Linked DNA regions of Homo sapiens: region 1 is linked to region 2. The links come from fine-mapping of genetic effects on gene expression. Tissue or cell type: whole blood. Region 2 holds a variant in brackets; the other region holds the start of a gene. All regions are shown on one strand. Distances are from middle to middle. Region 1 holds the start of LINC00885 (long intergenic non-protein coding RNA 885). Region 2 has its middle 14 kb from the start of TFRC.

Region 1 (16,380 bases), 46 kb before region 2:
TTCCTGTTTTCTTTTGCCTCAGCTGCAAGGTTACCCGCTATGCAAGGGCACAGGTTGTGCCAAGTCACTAGTTATGCTGTAGATGACAGAAGCTGTCACTGTGTGATTGACAGCCTTTGCGCTGGCCTATATAAGCTAAACCCTGACTTTGTTCAATGCTCAGCTTTTTGGATACGAATCCTCTGAGCTGGTGCACCTTAAATAAACATCCTCCTGTTTCCCGTATTGGTCTCTCCAGTCCTCTGTTCCTCGCAACAGTTTCCCCTGAAGATGAGAAGACGTGGGAAGAGGGGACTTCTGTAAACATTGACCTGCTTTTGTGAAGCACAGGGAGTGGGTGTGCTAGGAGAATGGTTCCTAACTAGCGGCTTCTGTGCTGATGAAGGCAAACAGCAGTCTCAGTCTTTTTTTTTTTTTTTTTTTTTGAGACAGAGTCTTACTCTGTTGCCCAGGCTAGAGTGCAGTGGCGCACTCTCAGCTAACTGCAACCTTCACTCCCTGGGTTCAAACAAGCACATCTGTCTAATTTGTGTATTTTTAGTATAGATGGGGTTTCGCCATGTTGGCCAGGCTGGTCTTGAACTCCTGACCTCAAGTGATTCGCCTGCCTCCGCCCCCCGAAGTGCTGGGATTACAGGTGTGAGTCATCGTGCCTGGCCTAGTCTCAGTCTTCAGACACAGGGGAGACCTGTTGGTTTTGCAGCGTCTTCTCTCTTTCTAATAAAAGCATCCATATTTTTCTTTGTGAGACCACTCTGCCCCCACTTTGTCCGTGGTTCCAGCGGTCGGCTTAGGACTGGGATTTAGCCAATCCAAGTGCTCTATTCCCTTGGTCACGGCAATCTGTTCAAGGGTGGGTATGTGACCCAAGCCAGATCAATGAGTGTCTGTATTAGTCTGTTCTCACACTGGTGTAAAAAGATACCTGAGACTGGCTGAGTGCGGTGGCTCACGCCTGTAATCCCAGCACTTTGGGAGGCTGAGGCAGGCGGATCACCTGAGGTCAGGAGTTCGAGACCATCCTGGCCAACATGGTGAGACCCTGTCTCTATTAAAAATACAGAATTAGCCAGGCGTGGTGGTGTGTGACTGTGGTCCCAGCTACTTGGGAGGCCGAGGCAGGAGAATCGCTTGAATCCAGGAGGCGGAGGTTGCAGTGAGCTGAGATCACATCACTGCACTCCAGCCTGGGAGACAGAGTGAGACTCCGTCTAAAAACAAAAAACAAAAAACAAAACAAAAAAAACCCTGAGACGGTGTAATTTATAAAGAAAAGAAGAAATCATTTTAATTGGCCAGATGTGGTGGCTCACGCCTGTAATCCCAACACTTTGGGAGGCTGGGGCAGGCAGATCACCTGAGGTTGGGAGTTCGAGACCAGCCTGACCAACATGGTGAAACCTCGTCTGTACTCTACTAAAAATTCAAAAATTAGCCAGGCGTGTTGGTGCATGCCTGTAATCCCAACCATTGCACTATTGCACTCCAGCCTGGGCAACAAGAGCTCCGTTGTTTTTTTGAAACTCCGTTTCAAAAAAAAAAAAAAGAAGAAGTTTAATTGGCTCACAGTTCTGCAGGCTGCATAGGAAGCATGACGCTGGCCTCTTCCCGGCTTTTGGGGAGGCCTCAGGAAACTTCCAATCATGGCAGAAGGCGAAGCGGGAGCAGGCACTTCACACGGCAGGAGCAGAAGCAAGAGAGAGAGCGAGGGGGTGGGGCCACACACTTTCAAACGGCCAGATCTCTCGAGAACTCACTATGGAGAACAGCACCGAGAGGATGGTGCCAAACCATTCATGAGAAATCCACCCCATGATCCAACCACCTCCCACCAGGCCCCACCTCCAACACTGAGGATTAGGACTCAACTGGAGATTTGGGTGGGGACCCAGAGCCAAACCATGTCAGTGTCTATCTGAGGCATTTGGTTGCAACTACCAAGTAGAGACACTCTTTTTCTGTTGGGAGCACTAAGCCAGCAGTATAGAATCCTGCAACCGCTGGAGGCCAGTGTGCTAAGGTCTGAGAGGAGCCTGTTTGAGAGCAAAGTCAACACAGTGAATGGAGCCAAGAAATGGAGACAGCAAGATCTCTGTTGGCACGCTGTGAACGCCTGGATCCAGCCATGCCTGAATTTGATCTGTGAACCTCTTGGACATGACACAATATGATCCCCACTGATTCTTTCCCCATCTGAGTTCAGGCTTTGTTGTTTGCAATCACATCCACCTGTAAGTATAGCAAAAGCTGTTTGATGAAAACGTCATTCCATAGGAATTCTAATGGTTCACGCTTTTGGAGCACCTTCCATATGTAGACATTGTGGTAGATTTTTTTTTTTTTTTGAGACAGAGTCTCGCTCTGTCACCCAGGCTGGAGTGCAGTGGTGCGATCTCGGCTCACTTCAACCTCCACCTCCTGGGTTCGAGCAATTCCTCTGCCTCAGCCTCCCGAGTAGCTGGGATTACAGGTGCACACCACCGTGCCTGGCTAATTTTTCTATCTTTAGTAGAGACGGGGTTTCTCCATGTTGGTCAGGCTGGTCTCAAACTCCTGACCTCAGGTGATCTGCCCGCCTCAGCCTCCCGAAGTGTTGGGATTACAGGCGTGAGCCACTGTGCCCAGCCGTGGTAGATTTGTATTTTAATTTGTAATAGAGTTATACTTGAACATAGTTTTATGAGTTTACTTGGTGTGAAAACCCCCATCCTTTGCAACTCAGACTCCTTTTTCTACTCCTTACAGGTGCTGGAACTCAGAAACCAATACCCCAGAATATGGTGCTTTGACATATGGGACCGAAGAAGCCTTGAGGTCTCTCTGACCTTTCCCCAAAGAAGTTGAAGTTTTTTAATTGGTCAAGTTCCAGACCCACAAGGAGCAATTATTTGTAAAGCCAGGAATGTAACCAAACTTGAACAGAACTTTCCACAAAATAGTATGTAAACTGATCTCTGTTCCTAGATCCATTTACTTTCCCTAGTAATCCTTTATCCCCCTCTTTTCCTGCCTCCCATAAACTGTGCTGCCAGGATGCTGTATGAGCTTCTGAACCCCACTGGGGCGCAGGCACCCTGACTCTCCCTATGTGCATGTAAATTAGTTTTATGCCTTTTTTCTGTTAATTAGTTGGCCTCATGTCAATGATTTTCAACCACTGTCAATTTTTTCAGATGATTCTTTTTTTTTTTTTTCAGACAGGTCTCTCTCTGTCGCCCAGGCTGGAGTGCAGTGGTGTGATCTTAGCTCACTGCAGCCTCGACCTCCAGGGGCTCAGGTATCCTCCTACCTCAGCCTTCTGAGTAGCTGGGACCGCGGGCATGCACCACCACACCTGGCTAATTTTTAAAATTATTTGTAGAGACGGGGTCTTCCTATGTTGCCCAGGCTGGTCTCGAACTCCTGGACTCCAGTGGTCAGCCGGCCTCAACCTCCCGAAGTGCTGGGATTACAGGTGTGAGCCACTGTGCCCAGCCTGAGATAAATCTATTGAGTTTTCACTGTGAACAATGAGGATGTAGCTCATTTTTGTTCTCCCTGTCCCCACCACACAGAAACTCTCTGCCCTTCTCTTCCTCCTGATTGAGTTACGTTGTGATTTTGTTTAGATCCACATTCACTGCTTGTTTTTTGTTTTTTTTTTTTGAGACGGAGTCTGGCTCTGTCGCCCAGGCTGGAGTGCGGTGGTGTGATCTCGGCTCACTGCCAGCTCCGCCTCCCGGGTTCATGCCATTCTCCTGCCTCAGCCCCCTGAGTAGCTGGGACTACAGGGGCACGCCACAGCGCCCGGGTAATTTTTGTATTATTAGTAGATGAGGGGCTTCACCGTGTTGTTCAGGCTGGTGCCCTTGGTCATCCACAGGTGTGGGCCAAGCTAAGTTTGGGAGAAATGTAGTTTATAGTTTAAATGATAATAGCCCTTTCCAAAACTAAATTGCCTTTGTAAAACTAATGAAAGGCCACCGGGTTAGGGGGATGACAGGGGCATGAATTCCACGAAGATGTGGGTGCCGTGAGATGATTCCCAGCCACTATTCCAAAGGCCACTGGGTTAAGAGGAGGAAAGGGGCATGAATTCCGCGAATATGTGGGTGCTGTGAGATGATTCCCATGAGAAGTCACAAGATTTGCAACTTCCCCAATGACTCCTGTAAATAACATCACTACTGTAAGACCTAAGATTGGCCTTTTGAGATCTCTTTTCAGGGTTTCAGGTTACTGATGACCGGAAGGCCCCACCCAAACCAGCAGCTCCTCTGTGGCCACTACCCAGAGGCTGCCTCAGAGCACAAGGGCCAATTTCCACACCCCCGTGATTGCCCCCCCAGCTGATCAGCAGCACACGTCCCATAGCTCCCTGCCCACCAAACTCTCCTTAAGAGACCTTCGCCTCTGAATTTTGGGGCAGGCTGATTTGAGTAATAATAAAACTCTGGTCTCCCATTTCGCTGGCTCTACGTGTATTAAACTCTTTCTCTATTGCAATTCCCCTGTTGTAATAAATCAGCTCTAACTGGGCATTGGGCAAGAAGAGCACATGGGCAGTTACAGATTCTCCTGGTTTGAAGTGAATCAATCAGAGCCAGGCGTGGTGGTGTGCGCCTGTCAGTCAGAGCCAGGCGTGGTGGTGTGTGCCTGTCAATCAGAGCCAGCTGTGGTGGTGTGTGCCTGTCAATCAGAGCCAGGCGTGGTGGTGTGCGCCTGTCAGTCAGAGCCAGGCGTGGTGGTGTGCGCCTGTCAGTCAGAGCCAGGCGTGGTGGTGTGCGCCTGTCAGTCAGAGCCAGGCGTGGTGGTGTGCGCCTGTCAGTCAGAGCCAGGCGTGGTGGTGTGTGCCTGTCAATCAGAGCCAGCTGTGGTGGTGTGTGCCTGTCAATCAGAGCCAGGCGTGGTGGTGTGCGCCTGTCAATCAGAGCCAGGTGTGGTGGTGTGTGCCTGTCAATCAGAGCCAGGTGTGGTGGTGTGTGCCTGTCAATCAGAGCCAGGTGTGGTGGTGTGCGTCTGTCAATCAGAGCCAGGCGTGGTGGTGTGCGCCTGGATTCCTGGCTACTAGGGAGGCTAAGGTGGGCAATCACTTGAGCCCGGGAGTTTGAGGCTGCAGTGAGCTATGATTATGCCACTGTGCTCCAGCCTGGGCAATAGAATGAAAAATAAATTTAAAACTGTCTCTGAAAAATAAATTAAAAAGTGAGTCAATTAGCCCAGCCCACATTCAAGGGGACGGTTTTACACAGGAAATACCAAGAGGCAGGGATCACTGAGCGTCATCTTAGAGGCTGCCTCCCACAGCAGGCGAATGAAGTATTAGAACACCCTCGGTAGCGAGTGCTGAGAGGGCCAGACACGGTGGCTCATGCCTGTCGTCCCAGCACTTTGGGAGGCCGAGGCAGGAGGATCACCTGAGGCTAGGAGTTCACAACCAGCCTGGGTAACATAGTGAGATCCTGTCTCCCCGTCGAAATTTTTTTGATTAAAAAAAAAAAAAGCGCTGAGAGAGGAAATCCCAGGCTGTTGCAGGCATATGAGAGAAAAACACCAGCCTCTGCCCGAGGACGCATGAGAGAAAAACACCAGCCTCTGCCCGAGGACGCATGAGAGAAAAACACCAGCCTCTGCCCGAGGAGACCAATGAGGGTTTCCCAGAGGAAGCAGCTCTGGGTTGAGACTTAACAGATGAGAAGATATCCCAGGGGGCCAGGGGGTATAAGAGCATCCCAGGGAAAGGGAAAGCAAAAGACGGAAGTGTGGGTTCAGGGGGCAGCAGCACGGGCAGAGCCTGGGGCAGAGGGTGACAGGAAGGTGGGGGAGAGCTAGCTCCGGGAGGACTCACCTGCTGTCCTCAGGTGTTGGTGCTTTATCTTGGAGGCACTGGGAAGCCGTGGCCAGGGTTAAGGGGGTGAGATGCCAGGACTGTGCTTTAGTGCTCTCTGCAGTTACTGGCTGGGTAGAGGAGACCGAGGAGCAGAGGTGGGAGGCCGGAGACCAGGGAGGAGGCTGTGGCAGGCATCCAGGTCAATGCTGGGGGGCTGGTCTGGGCAGGAGCAGAGGGAGAGGGAAAGAGGAGATAATTGGGAGGTCGATGTGAACAATGGGGCTTCTACAGTGCCGGCCCAGAGGGATGAAGTAGTTCGTGGGGTAGGCGAAGGGAGGCAGGGAGAGGGAGGGCCAACTGTGTGAATGGAGGGAGCGGCCCAGGGCAGCTCAGCGAGGCCCGTTGGCTGCACAGGCAGGTGGTGAGCGGGCGGGGTCTTGCTCCTTGCGGGGTGCGAAAGTTGGCAGGGTTGGGTGGTAACCTTGGGAACCTGAGAAGAAAGGTCAGGGTGGAGATGTCAGCCGCCATTTTGGCCCCAGGAGGTCCATCCCTATGCCCGGTTGATTGCTCTGCTTTGTGAACACAACCATGGCTCAGCCGCAGACCCAGGATTAGAACTCTACAAAAAGGGCTTCTTGGCTTGTTGTGGTGGCTCAGGCCTGTAATCCCAACACTTTGGGAGGCCAAGGCGGGTGGATCACCTGAGGTCAAGAGTTTGAGACCAGCCTATCCAACATGGTGAAACCCCGTCTCTACTAAAAATACAACAATTAGCCGGGTGTGGTGGCGGGTGTCTGTAATCCCAGCTACTCCGGAGGCTGATGCAAGAGAATTTCTTGAACCTGGGAGGTGGGGGTTGCAGTGAGCCGATATCACGCCACAGCACTCCAGCCTGGGTGACAGAGCAAGACTCCGTCTCAAAAAAAAAAAAAAAAAAAAAAAAAAAAAAAAAAAAGAGGCTTCTTGAACACTCCCCTCGAACCTACCCCGGCGGCCTCCAGAGCTCCGCCCATCCTCGCCCTTCAAAGTTAGTGGAAGCCCTCAAGGCCTTGAACTAACTGCTCGCTGCTGACCTGCCGGCCTCGTTGCCCTCCTTCTCTCTGTGGCTGTGGGCAAGTGACTCACTTCTTAGTCTTCTCTCTTGGAAAACCGGCGGCTGGACCAGCTGCTCCCCGTGGTCCCTGCCAGCGCTGGCTCGCCGGGATTCCATCTCCCCACCCTCTCTGGGTTCTCCACGCTCTGGGCTGTCATTGCAGCGTGGATCGTAATGCACGTAATGCAGTGTGACATGCATTCCAGCACCCTGATGGCCATGGGCTCTCCCTCGGCTCAGGCCCGCCCTGGGGAGCTGCGGAGGCTGTGTTGAGCTCAGCTCCTCATCTTAATTCTGCAAACCTGTTTTGAGGTCTGGTCTGGTTCCCAGCTGAGCACTCAGGTACTGTGGGTGGGGTCTCTTGGCCTGGGGTCTGCCCGGCGCACCATGAATCATCAGCCAGACAGGGTCTTTCAGAAGCGGGACTGTCCATCCCTGTTCTCCAGGCATGATCATGTCTGTTCATCAGAGATCATCTTTACGGAGGTAGAGAAGAGCTTCCGTCTCCGGGGTCACGTGTTGTACTTTGCACATCCTCCGTGGTGAGGTTCTTTTCTAGATCTAGCCCAAATCTTCAAGAAGGCTTAAAACAAAGCTGCATTTTAAGGGCTTCTGGGTGGAGGAATCAGATTAGATCCATTCTGCTCAGCTTTCTCTCACCAGAAGTGGGGGCTCCGCCCTCTGAGTGGGAAGGGACCCATTCCTTTCACTTCCCCGCTCCCTGGCTAGGTCAGCCCACACCTGGCTTGGGCCAGAGCTGCAGTTGCTGTTGGCACCCAAATGGTCTGAGGCTGTTAGGTAACAGGTCTTGGCCAGACATTCTGGTTCCGCAGGTACAGCCTACAAGTTAAAAATTGTTCTAAAAATGCAGGGCAAGCTGTCTAAACACACACAGGCCTGGGGAGGGGGGAGGTTGTGGGACAGAGGCCATAGTCAGTGGAGGGATGTGTTTTCCACAGGGACTCTGGGCTCAGAGCCCTGACTCCAAACCAAGCATCAAACTCAGGGAAGAGTGGCCCAGACCTGCTGCAGGGACGAGGGGCCCAGACCCGCTGCAGGGACGAGGGGCCCAGACCCGCTGCAGGGACGAGGGGCCCAGACCTGCTGCAGGGACGAGGGGCCCAGACCCGCTGCCCAGAGATAGGATTTGCAGCCCAACCCCCTCTTAGCTTCCCTCATTTCCCTCCCTTCCCTCCCTCCCTCTCTCTCTCTCTTTTCTTTCCTTCCTTCCTTCTTTCCTCTCTCTCTCTCTTTCTCTCTCTCTCTCTTTCGAAGGACTCTCACTCTGTCACCCAGGCTGGAGTACAGTGGCATGATCTCGGCTCACTGCAAACTCTGCCTCCCAGGGTCAAGTGAATCTCCTGCCTCACTCTCCCGAGTAGCTGGGATAACAGGCATGTACCACCACGCCCAGCTAATTTTTTTGTATTGTTAGTAGAAACAGGGTTTCACCATGTTGGCTAGGCTGGTCTTGAACTCATGACCTTAAATGATCTGCCCACCTTGGCCTCCCAAAGTGCTGGGATTACGGGCGTGAGCCACCACGCGGCTAGTCTTGCTCTTTGTTATTTTGATGTCTTTCCTCCAGTTCCATGCTTTTAGGCATCTCTAACCTTCCCCTTCTTCTTTCCTCTTTCCCCTCTTCTTTCGTTTCCTCTTTTCTCTCCCTTGCCCCTACTCCTCTCTACCCACTAGGTAAGGGGATGTGTTTTTCTTTTTCCCCTCCTTAAACTCAGCCCCCACCTTAAGCCTCTGGAAATCAGCCTGGTAGTGGGAGGCAGCCTCGGGCCCCTCCATCTGTGACCTTGGGGAATTCCTGTCACCTCTCTGGGCCTCTGTCAAATGGGGACAATAATACCCATTTGATCCTCTGCCTCACAGAATGGCTGGGAACATCAAAAGAGGTCAGTTGGTTCATTTGTTCCATATTTATTTAAGCACGTGCAATTTAGCCAGGCACTGTGGTGGGTTCTGGGGTCCATAGCAGGAGTGAAAGACATGTGCAGACTGTCCCTAAATCCGCTCATCCGAAAACCACAGAGGGCTTCGAAAAAGACAAACTCCTTCCCTCCCCCAGATCATCCGGGTGGGACTCTGCAGAGTCGGGCAAAGCAGGTGGGGGCGGCGTCTGTGTTTTGTTGGGTTTTCCTGTGACTTGGAGTCACACTCTGTCACCGAGGCTGGAGTGCAGTGCTGCAACCTCTGTCTGCCTTCTGGGCTCAAGTGATCCTCCCACCTCAGCCTCCCAAGTAGCTGAGACCACCACAAGCACCACTGCACCTAGCTAATTTTGTTGTATTTTTAGTAGAGACGGGGCCTCGCCGTGTTGCCCAGGCTGATCTTGAACTCCTGGGCTTAAGGGATCCTCCCTGCCTCGGCCTCCCAAAGTGCTGGGATTGTAGGCATGAGCCACGGCGGCCAGCCTGATGTCTGAGTGTTTTTGTTTTGTTTTTTTTTTTTTGAGATGGAGTTTTGCTCTTGTTGCCCAGGCTGGAGTGCAGTGGTGTGATCTCGGTTCACTGCAACCTCTGCCTCCCGGGTTCAAGCGATTCCCCTGCCTCAGTCTCCCAAGTAGCTGGGATTACAGACGCATGACATGATGCCAGGCTAGTTTTTTGTATTTTTAGTAGAAATGGGGTTTCACCATGTTGGCCAGGCTGGTCTCGAACCCCTAACCTCAGGTGATCCACCCATCTTGGCCTCCCAAAGTGCTGGGATTATAGGCGTGAGCCACCGTGCCTGGTGGATGTCTGTTTTTATAGCTCTGCAAGTGAGCCAGGCTCCCGGGCGTGGAAACAGTGTGTGCCTGAGTGAAGGAGGACAGGCTGGCAGGGCGACCGAGTCGGCCCAGGGAACCATTAGACGGGCAGAGGTGGGGGGCGGGGGAGTAAGTGGGAGAAGCCGGGGACAGGAAGCAGAGGGGTTTTCCTCCTGCCCCTTGCTGGGTCGGCCCACGCACATCTGTGTCTAGGCTGGCTAGAGATTGAAGGCCTGTGATGGATTCTCTTAAAGAGTGATAAAAGTACCACAAGGGAAACAGAATAGCTCTAACCATTTCTTCATGATAGGGGCTTTCTCCCCTCAGGTATATTTTATAGGATATTTTCCTCAAAGATTAGCCTTTCCTTATTTGTTTTGTCTAGAGGGCGATCCTAAAAGTGGGCCTAGGTTTTCCATGTCGTTTTTGGTGTGTGTAAATTTTTAAAAACAGGTTTTGCTCATTTCTTTAAATATTGGTGTGATATTTCATGTTTGTAAAGCAGTCACTAAGTTTGACTGCCTGGAAATTTTAATGTATGCTCGTTAAGAAATGATGGTCGGGCGCCGTGGCTCAGGACTGTAAACCCAGCACTTTGGGAGGCCGAGGTAGGTGGATCACTTGACGTCAGGAGTTCGAGACCAGCCTGGCAAACATGGTGAAACCCCGTCTCTACTAAAAATACAAAAATTAGCCGGGGATGGTGGTGGGCACCTGTAATCCCAGCTACTTGGGAGGCTGAGGCGGGAGAATCACTTGAACCCAGGAGGCAGAGGTTGCAGTGAGCTGAGATCGCTCTACTGTATTCCAGCCTGGGGGGCAGGGTGAGACTCTGTCTCAAAAAAAAAGAAAAAAGAAAAAAGAAATGAGCAGTAACAACAACAAAAATCCTTAATGCCTCCAACCTTGATGGTTTAGAAAGGTCTTTTAAAGTTTTTATTGGCTGGGCATGGTGGCTCATGACTACAGTCTGAGGTGGGAGGCTGGGGTGGGAGGATCGCTTGAGCCTCGGAGGTTGAGGCTGCAGTGAGTCGTGATGGCACCACTGCACTCCTGCCTGGGCAACAGAGTGACACCCTGTCTTTACAGAAAATAACAATTAGCCGAATATTGCGATGCGTGCTTACAATCCCAGCTATTCAGGAGGCTGAGGTGGGAGGATCTCTTGAGCCTGTGAGGTTGAGGCTGCAGTGAGCCGAGATCATGCCATTGTACTCCAGCCTGGGTGACAGAGTGAGAGCCTGTCTCAGAAAAAAACAAAAAACCGAAGAAAAATGTTAACAGTGAGTTTGTTTTTCATGTGATAATGATTTGAATACTCAGGCACTGTTGATAGCAAGGGCGGGAAGAAAACAGTAAAATTCCTTCCTGAGGGAGTTCACATTCCAGTTGGGGAGAGGTAAGAAGCCAAGATGACCAGATACCTAAGAACGCGTTTAGCGTGGCAGGTCGTGATGAAATGCTAAGGAGGAAAAACAAAGCAGGAGTGAGGAGTATGAAAGTCAGCCAAGGAGATGGGATTGGAATTTTAGGCAAGCTAAGCCTGGGAGTCCTCCTGAGAAGATAACTTTTAAACGTAAGTCACAGAAAACTTCAAATGTACGTAAAAGTAGAGAGAACAATGAAATGAATACTCATATATCCATCATCTAGTATCAACAAATACTGCCAATTTGGTTTTATCTAATTTTCCCCAATCATTTATTTATTTTTGTGTGTGTGCTGGAGTTTTTAAAAGCAAAGCCAAGACGTCACATGAATTTTCCTGTAAATATTCCAGTGAGCATGTAAACTGATAAGGGATTTTGAAAACATACATCTACCCTGCTATTACGCCCTCAACAAAACTAACAAAAATTCCTCAGTATCATCCAACAACCAGTCCATATCTTCATTTCCCAATAGGGTCAAATTATCTTTTCACAGCTGGTTTTGAAACAGGATAATAACACCAGGCACAGCGGCTCATGCCAGAGGATCGTTGAGCCCAGGAGCTCAAGGCTGCTGGGAACCACACTCACAACACTCCAGCTTGGGGGACGGTGCCAGACCCTGTCTCAAAAACAGACAGACAAACAGGATAATAAAGGTTAATTTTAAGTGGTGGCATATATTTTATGACTTTTTCTCTATTTTTCAGATTTTCTACCATAAACATGTATTGCTTTTATAACTTTTTAAAAATATAATTTTGAAAAAGAAAAAGATTTGGAGGAAGAGCTTGCAGCAAATAATGACAAAAGACAAGGTTCATAAATAGCTAATAAGACTGATAAGCTAGGCCAGGTATGGTAGCTCAGACCTGTAATCCCAGCACTTTGGGAGGCTGAAGTGGGAGGATCAACTTGAGCTCAGGAGTTTGAGGCCAGACTGGGCAACATAATGAGACCTCGTCTCTACTAAACATTTTTTTTTTTTTTTGGGGACGGAGTTTTGCTCTTGTTGCCCAGGCTGGAGTGCAGTGGTGTGATCTTGGCTCACTACAACCTCTGCCTCCCGGGTTCAAGCAATTCTCCTGCCTCAGCCTCCCAAGTAGCTGGGACTACAGGCATGTGCCACCATGCTCAGCTAATTTTTGTATTTTTAGTAGAAACAGGTTTTCACCATGTTGGCCAGGATGGTCTCGATCTCCTGACCTTATGATCTGCCCGCCTCAGCCTCCCAAAGTGCTGGGATTACAGGCGTGAGCCACCATGCCTGGCCACATTTTTTTTTTAAATTACCTAGGCCTGGTGACACATGCCTGTAGTCCTAGTTACCCAGAAGGCTAAGGTAGGAGGATTACTTGAGCCTGAGAGATCAAGGCTGCGGTGAGCTGAGATCGCACCGTAGCACTCCATCCTGGCAACAGAACCAGACCCTGTCTCAAACAAAAACAAAAACTGATAATGAGCAAAAAATATGAACTAAATTTTATTCGAGAGGAAGTTCAACAGTGAATAACACCACACTGTACCAGATGAAACTGACAAGATGCAACCATATCAACAGCACAAAAGCCCGTGCCGAGTTGGTTGGAAGGTACTCACATGCTGCTAGAAAAGTGTAAATTATTCCACTCTGGGGAGCAATGTAGCCATAAAGAATTTGGGGCCGGGTGCGGTGGCTCACGCCTATAATCCCAGCACTTTGGGAGGCCAACACAGGTGGATCGCTTGAGGCCAGGAGTTCGAGACCAGCCTGACCAACATGGTGAAACCGTTTATCTGGTAAAAATACAAAAATTAGCTGGGTGTGAAGGCACATGCCTGTGGTCCCAGCTACTCAGGAGGCTGAAGCATGAGAATCGCTTGAACCCAGGAGGTGGAGGTTGCAGTGAGCCGAGATCACTCCACTGCACATCAGCCTGGGCAATACACTGAGACTCCGTCTCAAAAATAAGTAAGTAAATAAATTAAAATTATGTATAAATATGTTGTCCTTCAACAGCAAAAAGAAGAAAATATCCAGCAAGAGAATAATGAAGAAATAACTGATGGCGCATCAGCTTGGTGGCATATCAGGTTGCCATTAAAAATTCTACTTATGGGCCAGGCGCAGTGGCTCACGCCTGTCATCCAGCACTTTGGAAAGCCGAGGCAGGTGGATCACCTGAGGCCAGGAGTCTGAGACCAGCCTGGCCAATATGGCGAAACCCTGTCTGTACTAAAAATACAAAAATTAGATGGGCATGGGGTGGTGCACGCCTGTAGTTCCAGCTACTGGGAGGCTGAGGCAGGAGAATCCCTTGAACCCGGGAGGCGGAGGTGGCAGTGAGCCGAGATTGCGCCATTGCCCTCCAGCCTGGGCGACGAGAGCAACACTCTGTCCTGAAGGGGGAAAAAAAAAATTCTACTTATGAAGACTACAGGATTGTGAATGAACATTTATGATAAAAATATTACACAAGCAAAAAATAAATAATGACTCTGACTACAGCGAAATAAAATATGTACATGCCTGGACAAGCTGGAAGAACTAGACAGGAAGAAAACAACCTTGTTGGGCTCGAATGCTGAGATCATAGGTGGTTCGTTTTTCCTTTGCAGTTTTTTTTAATGCCTTTATATTGTTTATACAATAATTCTTTTGAAGAAGTCAGGATGTGGGTGAAGGGTTGGAGTAAGGTGGAAAATGTACCAGCATGCCTCGTCTCCTCCTTCTTGGAAGTCTGTGCCTCCAGCCTCCTGCTTGGGGTTGTCACTGCCCCACAGCCTGGGAGACTGGAAGGGAGCCGGTGAGGTCAACTCCATTTCTGTGGCCACTGGCAGGCCCTGGTGCCTGAGGCACTGCAGAAACAGACATGCTGGCTGCTCCCTTTTTCTCAGCCCACCTGCCTGCTGAGTTCTTTACATATTTTATCTCGATTTAATCCTTACAGAACTCAATGAGGTAGGTGCCCAATGAGAGTCGGGCAAGTTACCCAACTCTCAAAGCTGGAGAGCTGGGTGAGTTGCCTGAGGTCACACAGTGGGTAGAGAACACAGCCAAGTTCAAGGCTCTGCCCTTCACCTCTGTTTCCCACTGCTGTGCTGAGCTCACCAGGGAGCTATGCCGCCCAGCTGGCTGTGCAGTGGGGCAAGCTCTTCAACCTCTCCAGTCTCCTATGCACTCTTCGGTGATAAGTCGAGGGGTTCTGGGGAGGAATCTGCCTCCCTGGACCTGGACTCAGAGCTCCTCATGGGTCTGAACAGTGCAGAGGATGGTTGGACCATCCCCTCCACGGTCTCACTGTCCATCCATGCATTCAATTCACATCTGCAAGCTCTGTCTATGTACCAGGCACTATGCGACCTCTGAGATATGTGTACTAAGACACAGACCCCATCAGACAAAGGGAGGGACACACATCAACAGAGAAGTATCATGAAATATCCTTTCTTTTTATTTGAGACAGTCTCACTGTTACCCAGGTTGGAGTGCAGTGGTGTGATCACAGCTCACTGCAGCCTCAACCTCCTGGGCTCAGGGGGTCCTCCCACCTCAGCCTCAGGAGTAGCTGGGAGTACAGGTGCACACTACCACGCCCGGCTAATTTTTTTTTTTTTTTAGATGGGGTCTCACTCTTTGCCCAGGCTGGAGTGCAGTGGCACGATCTCGGCTCACTGCAACCTCCGACTCCTGGATTCAAGCGATTTTCCCGCCTCAGCCTCCCGAGTAGCTGGGATTACAGGCACCCACCACCACACCCGACTAATGTTTGTATTTTTAGTAGAGACGGGGTTTCACCATGTTGGCCAGGCTGGTCTCAAACTCCTGAGTTCAGGTGATTCACCCACCTTGGCCTCACAAAGTGCTGGGATTACAGGCATGAGCCACTGTGCCCGGCCTAATTTTTGTATCTTTTGTACAGACAAGGTTTCTCCATGTTGCCCAGGCTCGTCTGGAACTCCTGGGCTCAAGTGATCCTCCCACCTCAGCCTCCCAAAGTGCTGGGATTACAGGTGTGGGCCACCGTGCTCAGCAAATGAAATTCTTGATTCCAATGTCACCTGCTCAGAGAGGATGAGCTGGGCCATGTATTTAGAGTATCTCTGCACAGCCACTCACTGTCCTATCTCCCCGGTGCTTCGCATACATTTTTCACCGTTTGAAATTCTCTTCGTTACGAGTAAGTTCCATAAGGATGGGGACCTTGTCTTGCTCGCCTCTATTTCCCAGGGCTTAGTGCTGAGTAAGCCCTTCCTGAGTGTTTCCTGCTTCCTGAGTTATTGGGATGAAGCTGAGCAGAGTAGGGACGCACAGGACTGTTTCAGAAGGAGAAGAGGGCAGAGAAGTCTCTCCTGGGACAGTCTGGGAAAGGGCAGAAAATATACTTCTATTGACAAGAGGCCATGAAAACACTCAAGACCCTTCAAACCCAGAAGAGCAGTGACCAGGGCACTGGGACACAGTCAGAGGATCTGGAGTGAGAGATCTTGGCCGTAGCCCTGACCCCACAGGGAACCCGGAACGAGAGGATCCATGCTGGAGGGGCCTCCGAGCTCATTCCAGCCGACTTTTCACAGCTTCAGCGTCTGGACTTTGCCGGGAACAGACAGTCAGTGGCTCATGGTTTAGGCTTCCCCAGTTATAGACATACTTGGCTGGGGGCGGTGGCTCACGCCTCTAATCCCAACACTTCGGGAGGCCAAGGCAGGAGGATCGCTTGAGCCCAGAAGTTTGAGACCAGCTTGGGCAACATAGTGAGACCCTGACTCTATAAAAACATTAAAAAATGGCCGGGCACAGTGGCTCATGCCTGTAATCCCAGCACTTTGGGAGGCCGAGGCAGGTGGATCTCCTGAGGTCAGGAGTTTGAGACCAGCCTGACCAATATGGTAAAACCCTGCCTCTACTAAAAATATAAAAATTAGCTGGGCGTGGGGGCGCACGCCTGTAATCCCAACTACTCCGGAGGCTGAGGCAGGAGAATCCATGAACCCAGGAGGTGGAGGTTGCAGTGAGCTGAGGTCGGCGCCATTGCACTCCAGCCTGGGCGACAAGAGCAAAAGTCTGTCTCAATAAATAAATAAATAAATAATAAAAATAAATAAATAAATAGATAAAAATGGGCCAGGCACTGTGGCTCATGCCCGTAATCCCAGCACTCTGAGAGGCTGAGGTGGGTGGATCCCTTGAGCCCAGGAGTTCGAGACCAACCTTGGCAACACAGTGAGACCTTGTCTCTAAAAAAATAAAATACAGTAAAATAATTTTAAAGAGAGATGAACCACTCTCCCCCAGGCCTCTAAGCATGTG
Region 2 (16,380 bases):
TTTGGCCATTGGGAGCTTCTGTAGTTGGCTTCTGTGTCCATAGACATATCCCCACCATTTTGTTCTTTGAGCTCTTTCGTACTTTCTGGCACTAGAAGATGCTCCAGGTTCATATTGGATATTTCCTGACCCAGGCTTAGAATCAGCCATTTCTTCTGGTACAAGTTTATTTACTAAAAAAAAAAAAAAAAAAAAAAAAAAAACAACAAAACCATCAGGGCCGGGCAGTGTGGCTCACACCTGTAATCCTAGCACTTTGGGAGGCCGAGGCGGGAAGATCATGAGGTCAAGAGATTGAACCAGCCTGGCCAACATGGTGAAACCCTGTCTCTACCAAAAATACAAAAATTAGCTGGGTGTGGTGGTGGGCGCCTGTAATCCCAGCTACTCGGGAGGCTGAGGCAGGAGAATCGCTGGAACCCAGGAGGCGGAGGTTGAGGTAAGCCGAGATCACGCCACTGCACTGCAGCCTGATGACGAGCGAGACCCCATCTCAAAAAATAAAAAAAGAAATCAGGCATTTCTCCAGGGAGGCTGGTTCCTTTGCAATGGGGAATGGTATTAGAAACGAGGGTCCTCTCTACTGGGGAATGGTATTAGAAAGCAGGGTCCTCCGCACTGGCGAATGGTATGAGAAACCAGGGTCCTCTGTTCTGGGGAATCGTATTAGAAAGCAGGGTCCTCTGCACTGGCGAATGGTATGAGAAACCAGGGTCCTCTCTACTGGGGAATGGTATTAGAAAGCAGGGTCCTCTGTACTGGGGAATGGTATTAGAAAGCAGGGTCCTCTGTTCTGGGGAATGGTATTAGAAAGCAGTGTCCTCTCTACTGGGGAATGGTATGAGAAACCAGGGTCCTCTGTTCTGGGGAATGGTATGAGAAACCAGGGTCCTCTGCTCTGGGGAATGGTATTAGAAACCGAGATCTGGACACTGGGTGTGTTCTCATTGCTACCTGGATATTGTTTCTGGGGCCTCTAAGTGGACAGAGCTGGGAAATATACATGTAAATACTAGTAGCTTTTTGTTGGATTCATTAGGATTCTCTCTATATAAAATCATATCATTTATAAGCAGAGATAGTTTCAATTCTTCCTTTCCAATCTGAATACCTTTTGTTTCTTTTTCTTTTATTTTTTTCTGAGATGGAGTTTCATTCGTGTTGCCCAGGCTGCAGTGCAATGGCACGATCTCAGCTCACTGCAGCCTCTGCCTCCTGGGTTCAAGGGATTCTCCTGCCTCAGCCTCCTTGGTAGCTGGAATTAGAGGCACCCACCACCACGACCCCCTAATTTTTTGCATTTTTAGTAGAGACAGGGTATCACTTTGTTGGCCAGGCTGGTCTCGAACTCCTGACTTGTTGATCCACCCGCCTCGGCCTCCCAAAGTGCTGGGATTACAGGCATGAGCCACCGCACCCAGCCTGTTTGTTTCTTTTTCTTGTCTAATTGCTTTGGCTAGAACCTCCTTCACAGTGTTGAACAGGTGAGAGTGGACATCTTTGTTTTGGTAGGGAGAAAGTCTTTCACTTTGTTAGCTGTAGGTTTTTTTGTATGTGCCCTTTATTGGATTGAGGTAGCTCCTTTTAGTTTGTTGAGTGTTTTTGTTGTTTTAGTGTTAATTTTTGTATTAGAGGCAGTGTCTTGCTACATTGTCTAGGCTGGACTTGAACTCATAGGCTCAAGTGCTCCTCCTGCCTCGGCCTTGAAAAGTGCTGGGATTATAGGTGTGAGCCACTGTCAGTATGAATTCAATCTCTTTACTTGCTGTAGGTCTATAGGTCTATTTAGATATTCTCCTTCTTCTTCTGTCTGTTTCAGAAATTTGTGTCTTTCAAGGAATGTGCCCATTTTATTTTATATAAGTTATCTAATTTGTTGGCATATGGTTATTCATGGTATTCTTTTATAATCTATTTTTATTTATTTATTTTTTGAGACAGGATCTCACTTTGTCACCCAGGCTGCAGTGCAGGGCACCGTCAGGGTTCACTGCAGCCTCAACCTCCAGGGCTCAAGCCATCCTCTTGCCTCTGCCTCCCTGAGTAGCTGGGACTACAGGCCTGTGCCACCACACCTGCCTAATTTTTGTATTTTTTGTAGAGATGGGGTTTTGTCATGTTGTCCAGGCTGATCTCAGATCTCCTGGACAACAGATCTCCTGGGCTCAAGCAATCTGCCTGCCTCAGCCTCCCAAAGTGCTGGGACTACAGGCATGAGCTACTGTACCTGGCCACCTTTTATTTATTTTTTTTTCTGTAAGGTATATAGTGATGTCCTCTTTAATTGCTGATTTTCATATATTGAACTTTTTTTCTTTTTTTGAGAGAGAGTCTTGCTCTGTCGCTAGGCTGGAGTGGAGTGGCACGATCTCAGCTCACTGCAACCTCCACCTCCTGGGTTCAAGTGATTGTCCTGGCTCAGCCTCCCGAGTAGCTGGGACTACAGGTGCCAACCACCACGTCCAGCTAATTTTTTTTCTATTTTTAGTAGAGATGGGTTTTCACCATGTTGGCCAGGATGGTCTCGATGTCCTAACCTCGTGATCCGCCTGCCTTGGCCTCCCAAAGTGCTGGGATTACAGGCGTGAGCCACCCTCCTGGCCACTTTTTCTCTTTTTAAAATGGTCAGTTTAGCAAAAGATTTGTCAGTTTTTTAAAAAATCGAGACAGGGTGTCACTCTGCCACTCAGGCTGGAGTGCAGTGGCTTGATCATTGGTCACTCCTCGGCTCAAGCAATCCTTCTTCAGCCTCCCAAGTAGCTAGGACTACAGGTTTCCACTATGCCTAATTTTTAAAAATTTTCGGCCGGGCGCGGTGGCTCACGCCTGTAATCCCAGCACTTTGGGAGGCCGAGGTGGGCGGATCACGAGGTCAGGAGATCAAGACCATCCTGGCTAACATGGTGAAACTCCATCTCTACTAAAAAACACACAAAAAATTAGCCGGGCGCGGTGGCGGGTGCCTGTAGTCCCAGCTACTCAGGAGGCTGAGGCAGGAGAATGGCGGGAACCCGGGAGGCAGAGGTTGCAGTGAGCCGAGATCGCGCCACTGCACTCCAGCCTGGGCACTCCAGCCTGGGCGACAGAGTGAGACTCCATCTCAAACAAACAAACAAACAAAAAAATTCATGTAGAGACTTGGGGGTCAGGAGTCTTGCTCTGTTGCCCAGGCTGGTGTCTAATTCCTGGCCTCAAGTGATCCTCCCACCCCAGCCTCCCAAAGTGCTGGGATTACAGGCGTGAGCGCCAGACTGTTTTGTCAGTTTTGTTGGTCTTTTCAAAAAGACAACTTCAGTTTTCTTGACTTTCTCTATACTTGTTGTGTTTTCTTTTTCAGACTTTTTTTTTTTTTTTTAGAGAGGGTCTCACTCTGTCACCGAGGATGGAGTGCAGTGGTGCGATCATAGCTCACTGCAGCCTTGACCTTCCGGGCTCAGGTGATCCTCCTACCTCAGCCTCCTCGGGAGCTGGGATTACAGGCACCTGCCACCACACCTGGCTAATTTTTGTATTTTTTGTAGACACAGGGTTTTGTCAAGTTACCCAAGCTGGTCTCGAACTAATAGGCTCAAGCAATCCTCCTGCCTTGGTCTCCCAAAGTGCTGGGAATACAGGCATAAACCACCATGTCTGGCCGACTTGCTTTGTAGTTTTTATATGTGTGTACTAACTGGTGCACACATATAAATATATATACATTAACTATCATGTATGTAACACACATACATGATTCTTGTATAATACATACACACACATAAACACATACATGATTATTAGCATATATATTTATATGTGTGTATATATATACACACACACAGTTGTTAATGTATGTATATTTATATACACATTAATATAAGCAAGAGAGAATTGTGTGTGTGTGTGTGTGTGTGTGTGTGTGTGTGTAGACAACGGTGAGCTACCTGGCTCCCTGGCTTGCCATCCATTCAATCCCAGCACAATGTAGAGTGGTTTCACAGTTGTTAACCCATATCCCCATGGGAAACAATTTTGCTGTTAGAGTTCAGTGCTTATGTACAGTTCCTTTTATTTTTAGTCTTATAGTCTTCACTTATTTCCAAAGTCACTTAGACCAGCGCTTCCCTTCCATCCCCTTCAATACCCAGCACTTCCCTTCCTTCTCTTTCAATATCCAGAACTTCCCTTCCATCCCCTTCAACACCCAGCACTTCCCTTCCATCCCCTTCAACGCCCAGCACTTCCCTTCCATCCCCTTCAACGCCCAGCACTTCCCTTCCATCCCCTTCAACGCCCAGCACTTCCCTTCCATCCCCTTCAACGCCCAGCACGTCCCTTCCACCCCCAACGCCCAGCACTTCCCTTCCACCCCCTTCAACGCCCAGCACTTCCCTTCCATCCCCTTCAACGCCCAACACTTCCCTTCCCTCCCCTTCAACGCCCAGCACTTCCCTTCCCTCCCCTTCAACGCCCAGCACTTCCCTTCCCTCCCCTTCAACGCCCAGCACTTCCCTTCCATCCCCTTCAACGCTCAGCAATTCCCTTCCATCCCCTTCAATGCCCAGCACTTCCTTTCCATCCCCTTCAATGCCCAGCACTTCCCTTCCATCCCCTTCAATGCCCAGCACTTCCCTTCCCTCCCCTTCAATACCCAGTACTTCCCTTCCCTCCCCTTCAATGCCCAGCACTTCCTTTCCCTCCCCTTCAACGCCCAGTACTTCCCTTCCATCCCCTTCAACGCCCAGCAATTCCCTTCCATCCCCTTCAATGCCCAGCACTTCCCTTCCCTCCCCTTCAATACCCAGCACTTCCCTTCCCTCCCCTTCAATACCCAGCACTTCCCTTCCCTCCCCTTCAATACCCAGCACTTCCCTTCCATCCTCTTCAATACCCAGCACTTCCCTTCCATCCCCTTCAATGCCCAGCACTTCCTTTCCCTCCCCTTCAATACCCAGCATTTCCCTTCCTTTCCCTCCCCTTCAATACCCAGCACTTCCCTTCCCTCCCCTTCAATACCCAGCACTTCCCTTCCCTCCCCTTCAATACCCAGCACTTCCCTTCCCTCCCCTTCAATGCCCAGCACTTCCCTTCCCTCCCCTTCAACACCCAGCACTTCCCTTCCATCCCCTTCAACGCCCAGCACTTCCCTTCCCTCCCCTTCAACGCCCAGCACTTCCCTTCCCTCCCCTTCAACGCCCAGCACTTCCCTTCCCTCACCTTCAATACCCAGCACTTCCCTTCCCTCCCCTTCAACACCCAGCACTTCCCTTCCCTCCCCTTCAACACCCAGCACTTCCCTTCCCTCCCCTTCAACACCCAGCACTTCCCTTCCCTCCCCTTCAACGCCCAGCACTTCCCTTCCCTCCCCTTCAACGCCCAGCACTTCCCTTCCATCCCCTTCAACGCCCAGCACTTCCCTTCCATCCCCTTCAATGCCCAGCACTTCCCTTCCATCCCCTTCAACACCCAGCACTTCCCTTCCTTCCCCTTGGATGTTAGGTCATGTTTGTAGCATGGTGAGGTTCTTTATAACAGTTTGCATTCCATCCTGGGAACCCTCCCACTCCCGCTTTAACATTTGCATATATTAAGGTTGAAATTTGTGCTGTAGAGAAATTTGTGCTCTATGGGTTTTTGTTTGTTTGTTTTGTTTTGTTTTAGTGACAGGGTTTTGCTCTGTCACGGAGGCTGGAGTGCTGTGGGATGATCATAGCTCATGAACTCCTGGATTCAAGGGATCCTCCTGCTTCACCTTCCTGAGTAGCTGGGACTACAGGCGCGTGCCGCTCAGCCAGCTAAAGTTTTTTTTTTTTTTTTTTTTTTTTTTTTTGAGATGATGTCTCACTGTGTCGCCCAGGCTGGAGTGCAGAAGTGCCATCTTGGCTCACTGCAACTTCTGCCTCCTGGGTTCAAGTGATTCTCCTGCCTCAGCCTACTGAGTAGCTGGGATTACAGGTACCCACCACCATGCCCAGCTATTTTTTGTATTTTCAGTAGAGACGGGGTTTCACCATGTTGGCCAGGCTGGTCTCAAACTCCTGACCTCAAGTGATCCGCTGCCTTGGCCTCGCAAAGTGCTGGGATTACAGGCGTGAGCCACCACACCCAGCCAGTTCTATGGGTTTTGAAAAATGCAGTCTCATGTACCATACAGAAGAGTTTCGCTGCCCTAAAATATCATATATGGTTTACCTATTCAGCCTATACTTCATTCTCCAAGCCTCTGGCAACCACTGATGTATTTTAGGTCTCTATAATTTCACCTTTTCCAGAATGTCATATAAATAGAATCATTATAGTATACAGTCTTTTAAGACTGGTTTCTGGCTGGGCATGATGATTCACGCCTGAAACCCCAGCACTTTGGGAGGCCAAGGTGGGTGGATCACTGGAGCCCAGGAGTTTGAGACCAGCCCTAGCAACATAGAAAGATCCTGTCTCTACAAAAATTACAAAACAACTAGCCAGGGGTGGGGACGTGCTCTTGTAGTTCCAGCTGCAAGCTGAGGTAGGATGGCTGGAGCCTGGGATGTAGAGGCTGCGGTGAGCCATGGCCACTCCACTGCACTCCAGCCTGGGTGACAGAGTGAGACCCTATCTCAAAAAAAGAGAAAAGAACAAAAAGACTTATCAGGTAAAATGGCCCAGAATCTAAATTTATGGCCCTCTACTAATCTTGCTGTTTCTTGCTCTAATGGATTTATGGCCATGAGAAACTGCAGCGAAGTGAAGGTGTGCCTGGAAGGGAGAGATGGACTCTGATTAATTGTATCAGTCTCCTGGCAATAGCTAACCTTATATACATAAGCATTAAAACCAAATCCAAGGACATCCTGTTTTGGAACATTAAAGTGCTGTTGTCACAGAAAGGAAGGCAGTCCTTCCTCTCTAAATTTATAATGTCAATCATTCCTTTGAGAGTTTTCGCTGGCCCTATATATTTTGCACCTGTTCCCAATAATCCAGATGGTACTGTGGGGGCCAAAGTCCTTGGCTCCCTGAAGTTTCACTAAAAAATCAATTCACAGCTTGGCGCGGTGGCTCATCTCTGTAATCCCAGCACTTTGGGAGGCCGAGGCGGGTGGATCACTCGAAGTCAGGAGTTTGAGACCAGCCTGACCAAAACGGTGAAACCCCATCTCTACTAAAATTACAAAAATTAGTTGGGCGTGGTGGTGCACGCCTGTAATCCCAGCTACTCCAGAGGCTGAGGCAGGAGAATCACTTGAACCCAGGAGGCAGAGGTTGCAGTGAGCCACGATCATGCCACTGCACTCCAGCCTGGGCAACAAGAGCAAAACTCCGTCTCAAAAAAAAGGAGAAAAGAAAACTCCTGTTCTTCTCTAGCCCAGGCCCAGTCTGCAGGAGAGGTTTCAGAGCAGGGTTCGTGTGGACTGGCTGTTGAGCTGCGTCTTCCCAGGGGTTCAGGGGAGTCCACGACAGCTGTAGACTGTTCTTCCGGCTCACAGTTTCACAAACTCAGTTTCGTCAGTTCACCAGAGTCATCAGGTAATTCGCTACCCAAGGGCACAAAATCCCGATTCATGAGGCCTATTTATTAATTCGTGTGGGGTAAGAGAACTGCTGTGCAGGCCAAGTCTTCCTGCTGAGGTCTGGTGTCTTCTCAGGAGGGAAAATTGTTTCAAGATCAGGATTAGTGGATTGTTTGGCAGTTGTGCAGTGGCTGCAAAGTAGCTGAATGGTCTTAGGGACCGTTGCTGAAGCTGGGACAGCCCCAGGGATCGCCCTGGTCCACTGAAAAGCTTAGAATGCAAAAAATAGAATGCATTACAGCTACCTAAAAATAGCTGCCAAGCAGAAACCGCTTTCATGCCAGCTGGCCACACAGGGTGCCCTTTCTGTGGGGAGTGTTGTAGAAACAGCTAATAAAAACTTCTTCCTCTAAAGTCTACTCAAGGGTTGGTCTAAGACCAGCAGCAGCCTGGGTATCAGTTAGGAGCTTGTTAGAAACACCGTCTTGGACCCCCACCAGACCTTCTGAATCAGAATCTGCATTTTAACACGTCCCCTCCATGGGACTTATCTGCACATTAAAGTTTCTTTAAAAAAATATTTTCAAGGGCTGGGTATGGTGGCTCACACCTGTAATCCCAGCACTTTGGGAGGTTGAGGTAGGTGGATCACTTGAGGTAAGGAGTTAGAGATCAGCCTGGCCAACATGGTGAAACCCCTTCTCTACAAAAAATACAAAAATTAGCCGGGCGTGGTGGTGGGTGCCTGTAGTCCCAGCTACTCAGGAGGCTGAGGCAGGAGAATCACTGGAACCCGGGAGGTGGAGGTTGCAGTGAGCTGAGATTGCGCCACTGCACTCCAGCCTGGGCAACAAGAGTGAAACTTCGTCTCTTTCTCTCTCAAAAATAAATAAATAAATAATAAATGAAAATAAATAATATATGTATATGAATATATATATTTTTAAGAAACAAGGTCTCACTCTGTAGTCAAGGCTTAGCTGCAGTGGCACAATCATAGCTCAGAGTAGCCTTGGACTCCTGGGCTCAAGCAATCCTCCTGCCTTGGCCTCCAAAGTGCTGGGATTATAGATGTGACACTGCATGGAGCTCACATGAATGTTTAAGAAGCACTAGGCTAGGCTGGGTGTGGTGGCTCATGCCTGTAATCCTAGCACTTTGGGAGGCTGAGGTGATCATGAGGTCAGAAGTTCGAGACCAGCCTGTCCAACATGGTGAAACCCCGTCTCTACTAAAAATGCAAAAATTAGCCGGGTGTGGAGGCATGTGCCTGTAATCCCAGCTACTCGGGAGGCTGGGGCAGGAGAATTGCGTGAACCCAGGAGGCGGAGGTTGCACTGAGCAGAGATCACGCCACTGCACTCCAGCCTGGGAGACAGGGCAAGACTCCGTCTCAAAAAAAAAAAAAAAAAAAGAAGCGCTAGGCTAGAGTCTAGCCTCTATCTGGATCTCAAAACCAATCTAACCTTTATTCATCTTACTACCTGCAGGAAAACCTGCCTGTACCTTAATAAAGCCAAGGCTAGAGCCAGGCATGCTGGCTCTCACCTGTAATCCCAGCACTTTGGGAGGCCGAGGAGGCTGGAAGATCCTTTGAGCTTAGGAGTTCAAGAATAGCCTGGGCAATATAGTGAGACTTTGTCTCTACAAAAAAAAATTAAAAATTAGCCCAGCGTGGTGGCTCACGCTTGTAATCCCAGCACTTTGGGAGGCCAAGGCTGGAGGATCCCTTGATCTCAGGGGTTCAAAAATAGCCGGGGCAACACAGTGAGACTCCATCTCTACAAAAAAAAATTAAAATTTGACAGGTGTGATGGCACATGCCTGTAGTTCCAGCTACTTGGGAGGCTGAGGCAGGAGGATCGCTTGAGGTTACAGTGAGCTATGGTCATGTCACTGCATTCTGGCCTGTACAGCAGAGCTGTCTCAAAAAATACATAAATAAAATAAAGTCAAGGCTGGATTTCAGACCTTGACACAGAAGTGGTCTGCCTGGAATAGGGGGTTGGAGGGGACCTGGCTAGCAGGATTGGCTCACGGGCCCAGAACTGTCTCTCCCTTTGGAATTCTCTGCTCTCATTGCCTACTTGGGCTCGACCTTATCAGAGAAGCCTGCCCCCCTTCGTAGCATGTTGCTCAGGCTGGCCTCTGACTCCTGGGCTCAAATGATCCTCCTGCCTCAGCACCTCCAAGTAGCTGAGAGTATAAACATGTGCCAGGGTGCCCAGCTATGTTACTTCTGGGAAGCATTCTGGAAGATAGTTGTACCAGGCACACTGTACCTTATAACCTTGTCTTTATATATGGGGATCTTTTGCTTTGTGCTCCTGGCATCAAATTCAGCTATAAAGTTGACTCAAACCTTCCAAGGATGGGTATTGTTGTAAGGTCCTGGTCAGAGCCTGGCAGTACGTCAGCCTACCCTGAGTGCAGAGCTTCAACTACCCGCCTGCTACAACAGTGTTTTCATATTTCCATACCTGAGATATAGTAAAAAGTGGTTTTAATACAGAAACCTGGCCAGGCATGGTGGCTCACACCTGTAATCCCAGTACTTTGGGAGGCTAAGGAGGGAGGATTGCTTGAGCCCAGGAGTTTGAGACCAGCCTGGACAACATGGTGAGATCCCCATTGCTATATCTCTTAACATTTATTTAAAAAAAAAAAAAAAAAACAGAAATCACAGAGATCTGAAGTTAGGGTCTTGCTATTTAAAAGCTGTGCCACTTTCAGCCAATCCTTTTATATTCTTCACACTTCTACTTATTCATCTATAAAATAGGTATGATACCTGTTTCACAGAATTGTTGGGGGCCAAAGTAAGATGATACAAATATAAGTTCCCAGCTCAGTACCTGGACACCATAGGTGCTCAGCGAACGTTACCGCACTCTGACACCTGGGCACCCCAGCCCTGGGATACGGGTCTTCCTACCACTTAGGGGATTGTGTGAGATGAACCAAGGGAAGCCACTCCAGCTCTCACAAATGTAACCACTGTACAGCTGCCTCCTTGACCACATTTCCAT[G/C]TATAAGAAATACAAGTTTTGGCAGGAACATTTTCCAAACCAAAGGAAAATTTGTCTACTGTGTATATTAAAGCTGAAGAAACCAAAAAGTTTCTGCCTATTTGGTATTTTTCCTGAATACTAGATTTGCTGACTTGGGATTTAGATGTAGACGTCTGTTTGCAAATGTTTTCTTCACACATTTGTTCATTTTTCCTATTTACATCATCAGTCATCCCCACTTCACAATGTTCTTTTCAAAGGCCTCTTTCTTAGTCATTTTTTTTAGGCAATGTTTGGCCATCTGGCGCACAGTTTATCAGAAGTATTATTGCTTAAGGTCCCAGCCATAGAGGAAGGGAAACTCAGACATAAGTGAGAGTTGCAAGCTCAGATGTCAAAAGAAGATACAAATAAGAGGCGGGGTACAGTGGCTGATGCTTGCAGTCCCAGCACTTTGGGAGGCCAGGGTGGGAGGATAGCCTGAGGCCAGGAGTTCAAGACCAGCCTGGTCGACATAGCAAGGTCCTGTCTCTACAAAAAAAGAAAGAAAGATAAAGATGCAAATAAGAAAAACCAAACTGACTAATTTATATTTTGGAAACAAAGTTTTTTTTTTTTTGAAGTATTTATTTATTTATTTTTGAGACAGGCTCTTACTCTGTTCCCAGTGTAGTGTAGTGGCATGGTTACGGTTCACTGCAGCCTCAAACTCTTGGGCTCAAGGGATCCTCCCGCCTCGGCCTCCCAAGTAGCTGGGACTTCAGGAGTGTACCACCATGCCTGGCATTTTTTTTTTTTTTTTGGTATTTTTTTGTAGAGACAGGGTTTTGCCATGCGGCCCAGAAACAATGTTTAATATATATACATTCATACGATAATTTTATCAATTCAATAACTCTCCTTATCAAAGGTAGGTACGCATTCTGGAAATTTAAGCAAATGAGCTAGCTTGCAGGGACAATATGAATGCACTGCATTTCTGTCAAATGGTACCCAGATTTCTGGAGCATCAGTTGTACTACAAACTCTTATTTTTAGAAGTATCTGGGATTCTAGCCAGGCGCGGTGGCTCACGCCTATAATCCCAGCACTTTGGGAGGCCGAGGCGGGTGGATCAGGTCAGGAGTTCGAGACCAGCCTGACCAACATGGTGAAACCTCGTCTTTACTAAAAATACAAAAATTAGCCGGGTGTGGTCGCACTTGCCTGTAATCTCAGCTACTCAGGAGGCTGAGGCAGGAGAATCGCTTGAACCCTGGTGTCAGAGGTTGCACTGAGCCGACATCACACCACTGCACTCCAGCCTCAGTGACACAGAGAGACTCCGTCTCAAAAAAAAAAAAATTAGCTGGGCGTGGTGGCGCATGGCTGTAATCCCAGCTACTTGGGAGGCTGAGGCAGGAGAATTGCTTGAACTCAGGAGGTGGAGGTTGCAGTGAGCTGAGATGGCGCTATTGCACCATCCAGGGCAAGAAGAGTGAAACTCCGTCTCAAAAAAAAAAAAAAAAAGGAAAGAAAAGAAAGAAATATCTGGGATTCCCCACATAGGAATATGAATCCAAATTTTGAAATTAACTTAAATCTGAAGTGAAAAAAAATAGATCCCTCAGATACTAGATCTTCTCAAATGGTTCCACCTAGATGGTCCCTGTACCTCTTGAATAGAAATTCTTCCCTGGGGAGGTGTCTGCAGAGCTGTGCGGGTGGTGCAGTCAGTCTGTGTCATGCCTGGGTTTGTAAGGAGGCAGTGTAGTGGAATTTTTTAGGGCCAGGTTAGAAGCTAGATGACCTAGGCTTGAATTCTTGCTGTCACTATTTATTAGCCATGTGACATGGGGCAAGTTACTTTACTTCTGTATTAAGCTAGTTTCCACACCTGAAAATGGGATTACCTCTTTATTTTTAAGAGTTTTTAATTTTTTTTAAGAATTTATTTTTAAGAATTGTTCTGAGGATTGCATGAGCTCATATGTTTAAAGGCGCTAGAATGGAGCACCTGGTAGATGTACAATAAACCTTGGCTATTTTTATTCAGCTCCAAGGCAAGGATGTTCCTAGCCAAATAGATCAGGCTCTTTTCCACCTCCAGCTGAATTAGACTGGTGATAAGCGGGGACAGATCCTCTTCATACGCTATAGTAGACTGTAACAGTACCTGGATATCACATTCTCCATGATAAAAGGAGCATAGAGGGTACTAGTACACGGCAAAACTAGATTTGGGGCCCAGGTCTTTCTGCTCCAAAGATTGATCTATTCCCTTGAACCCTGCTGAAAACTCAACAGAAGTTAACAATAGACAGTGGCTATTAAGGTAGTGAATATGGTGGCAGACAGATGGCCACCAAAAGCTGCAGCATCTACAACAGGGGAATGATGTTCCTGCCCCCTCTGGATTGGCCAAACTATACTTCCAAAAATGACCAGTGGGGCCTGGCGCGGTGGCTCATGCCTGTAATCCTAGCACTTTGGGAGGCCAAGGCGGGCAGGTCACCTGAGGTCAAGAGTTCGAGACCAGCAAACTTCCGTCTGTACTAACACAAAAATTAGCCCGGCGTGGTAGAAGGCGCCTGTAATCCCAGCTACTCGGGAGGCTGAGTTAGGAGAATCGCTTGAACCTGGGAGGCGGAGGTTGCAGTGAGCGGAGATCATGCCACTGCACTCCAGCCTGGGCGACAAAAGCGAAACTCCATCTCAAAACAAAAAAATAAAAAAAAAAACACACAAAAAAAACCACAAAGTGACCAGTGGGTGGGGAGACATGGAATCACGCCCTGTGGTAACCATTAGAAGAGATTTGGATATTTAGCTGGAGAAGACAGCTGTGAACAGGAGAGCAGTCTTCAAACAATAATTAATTTATAGGATGGGCGTGTTGGCTCACACCTGTAATCCCAACACTTTGGGAGGCTGAGGTAGGAGGACTGCTTGATCCCAGGAGTTTGAGACCAGCCTGAGCAACATAGCAAGACCCCATATCTATTTAAAAAAAATATATATATATATAAAATAATTAATATATAGAAGAGGGAGAGAGAATTTAGTTTAGTAGATCAAACTTTTGTTTTTCTTTTGAGACAGAGTCTCACGCTGTCGCCCAGGCTGGAGTGCAGTGGTGCGATCTCAGCTCACTGCAACATCCGCCTCCTGGGTTCAAGCAATTCTCCTGCCTCAGCCTCCTGAGTAGCTGGGATTACAGGTGTGCGCCACCATGCCTGGCTAATGTTTGTAGTTTTAGTAAAGATGGGGTTTCACCCTGTTGGCCAGGTTGGTCTTGAATGACCTCAGGTTATCTGCCCACCTTGGCCTCCCACAGTGCTGATATTATAGACGTGAGCCACCGCACCTGGCCCAGATAAAAACTTTCTGACAGTTCAAACTGCCCAGGTCTTTCTGCTTTGGGAAATTATAGATTTGCTCCCATTGGAGAGGTAAAGGAGACACTAGATAACCACCTGATGAGGTGAAGTAGAGGAATTTTGTTGAATTAATTCAACATACATTTTTTGAGCACCTACTATAGGTCAGAGACAGTACATTAGTTATATAGTTCCTTCTGAACTTGAAACTCTATTATGCAGTGAGTTCTATTTTGCCTCCGAATGGGACTAAATAGAACTTCATATCCTACTCAAAACTTCAACTTAGACCACTGTACTGGTTGGCATAAATGTCCTTGTAATCAATTTAAAAATTGTCTTTGGCTAGGCATGGTGGCTCACGCCTGTAATCCCAACACTTTGGAAGGCCAAGGTGGGTGCATCACTTGAGGTCAGGAGTTCGAGTCCAGCCTGGCCAACATGGTGAAACCCCATCTCTACTAAAAATACAAAAATTAGCTGGGTATGGTGGTGGGCACCTGTAATCTCAGCTACTCAGGAAGCTGAGGCAGGAAAATCACTTGAACCCGGAAGGTGGAGATTGCAGTGAGCTGAGATCGTGCCACTGCACTCCAGCCTGGGTGACAGAGCACAACCCCATCTCAAAAGAAAACAAACAAACAAACAAAAAAAAAACAAAATTAGTTATCTTTCACTGTCCTAAGTAACCTTTCCATTTGCTATAAAATGGGAGCAAACTCCTCCATATTAATCTGAATCTTGCCCCTATTCCATGTTCTCGTGGGTGACCTTCCGTTTGGCAATGGAGAAAGAAAAAATAATTGAGTCAGCAGGATAAGGACAGGAAACTGAGGGTGGAGAAAAAGAAATGCAAAATAAAATGGAAAATAGTATCAACCTCAAATCTATGAGTTGACAGTCCACCTGCCTTTTTTCTAGGTTGCATCCTCTTCCAAAGTGGCAGAGCTCCACATTTTTATTTTATGACTCTGGTCCTAAAGTGATTGCCCGAGGCTTAGGATTCCAAGGAAAATAAAATGGATCCGGCATGTTAAATAGGAGCTAGGGTCAGAGCTAAAGGTAGGTTAGAGTGATTTCTGTAGAAGCTGCTGTGAAGACCAGCCGTGTGACAGGCAGGGTGCTGCCCTCACTGACCGGAGTGTGTGCAGCTATTTGACAGCATTTGAAAAGACTTCAGGCCGGGCATGGTGGCTCAAGCCTGTAATCCTAGCACCTTGGGAGGCCGAGGCAGAAGGATCCCTTGAGCCCAGGAGTTTGAGACCAGCCTGGGCAACATAGGGAGACCCTCGTTCTACATATTTTATTTTAAGAAATTTAAAAAAGTAAAAATAGTGAAAACACTGGGTGTGGTGTCTCACGCCTGTAATCCCAGCACTTTGGGAGGCTGAGGCGGGTGGATCAATGGGGTCAGGAGTTCGAGACCAGCCCGGCCAACATGGTGAAACCCCATCTCTAATAAAAATACAAAAATTATCCAGGCGTGGTGGTGCGCCTGTAGTCCCAGCTACTCAGGAGGCTGAGGCAGGAGAATCACTTGAACCCAGGTGGCAGAGGTTGTGGTGAGCCGAGATTGCATCACTGCACTCCAGCCTGGGTGACAGAGTGAGACTCCATCTCAAAAAAAAAAAAAAGATTGAAAAGACTTTCTCTCTGCCTTCTAACTCAGCCTCCCAACTCATTAAAAACAAACAAACAAGCAAACAAACAAAAAAACCGTAACCAATATTTGCTGAAATGTAGGGCGGTAGAAAGTTGAAACAGCGACAAGCAGAAAGAACAGGGAGAAACCTTGGGAATTGAAATTTAACTTTGAGCATCATTTATCCTGTTCACTAAAAAGTCATTTATCCTGTTCACTAAAAAGTCTTGTGCTCTGAGAGAGGAAATGGCCTAGGACTATGCTTTTCAAAAATAGGTTACGGCCCATTGGGAAATCAATTGAATGGGTTAAAAATTAGCATTTTTACTATTAAATAGAATAGAAAATTCTGGAGGGCTTTCCACACCTCAAGGGTATTATTTCATGAAACTTTTACTTTGGGTTTCAAGGAAATATACACATATATACACACACATCCACGTGGGTATACTGAAGGAAATATACACGTGTATACACACGCATACACACACGCATACACATGGGTGTACTGAGTTGTGAAGTAAGATGGACATTTGTCCATGAAATGCAGTAAAAAACGTTTGAGAAATGCTGAACTAAGAGACTTCATCTGCTGTTTGGGCCACAGGTAGGACCCCAGAAAGAGCAAGTGGCAACTTTGTAACTCTATTACAAAGTTGGCAAATTAATGGTATTTTTGTGGGATTTTTTTTTTTGAGACAGTCTCACTCTGTTGCCCACGCTGGGTGCAGTAATGCAATCCCAGCTCACTACAGCCTCAGCCTCCCAAGCTCAAGCCATTCTCTCACCTCAGCCTCCAGATGCCCAGCTAATTTTTTGTACTATTGGTAGAGATGGGGTTTCGCCATGTTGTCCAGGCTGGTCTCGAACTCCTGCACTCAGGCCATCCATCTGCCTCG

What was found. PIP is the estimated chance that this variant, and not a neighbour inherited with it, causes the effect.
Region 1: it holds the start of LINC00885, and the variant in region 2 is the best candidate, but not a certain one, in a credible set for the expression of LINC00885 in whole blood (TOPMed, PIP 0.74).

The regions. Positions count from the first base shown.
Region 1 is chr3:196,133,825-196,150,204 of GRCh38, reverse strand. It overlaps LINC00885 (long intergenic non-protein coding RNA 885), which reads right to left and starts at 7,569. Exons shown (of 3, transcript NR_034088.1): 1 at 7,205-7,569; 2 at 5,828-6,299. RefSeq lists enhancers at 9,606-9,665, 9,716-9,765, 13,655-14,455 and a silencer at 15,625-15,784.
Region 2 is chr3:196,087,922-196,104,301 of GRCh38, reverse strand. No RefSeq gene overlaps it. Among named protein-coding and RNA genes, the nearest start is that of TFRC, 14 kb to the right of the region's middle. RefSeq lists an enhancer at 7,343-7,392 and a silencer at 11,673-11,861. The variant G/C (reference allele first, on the strand shown) is at 10,499.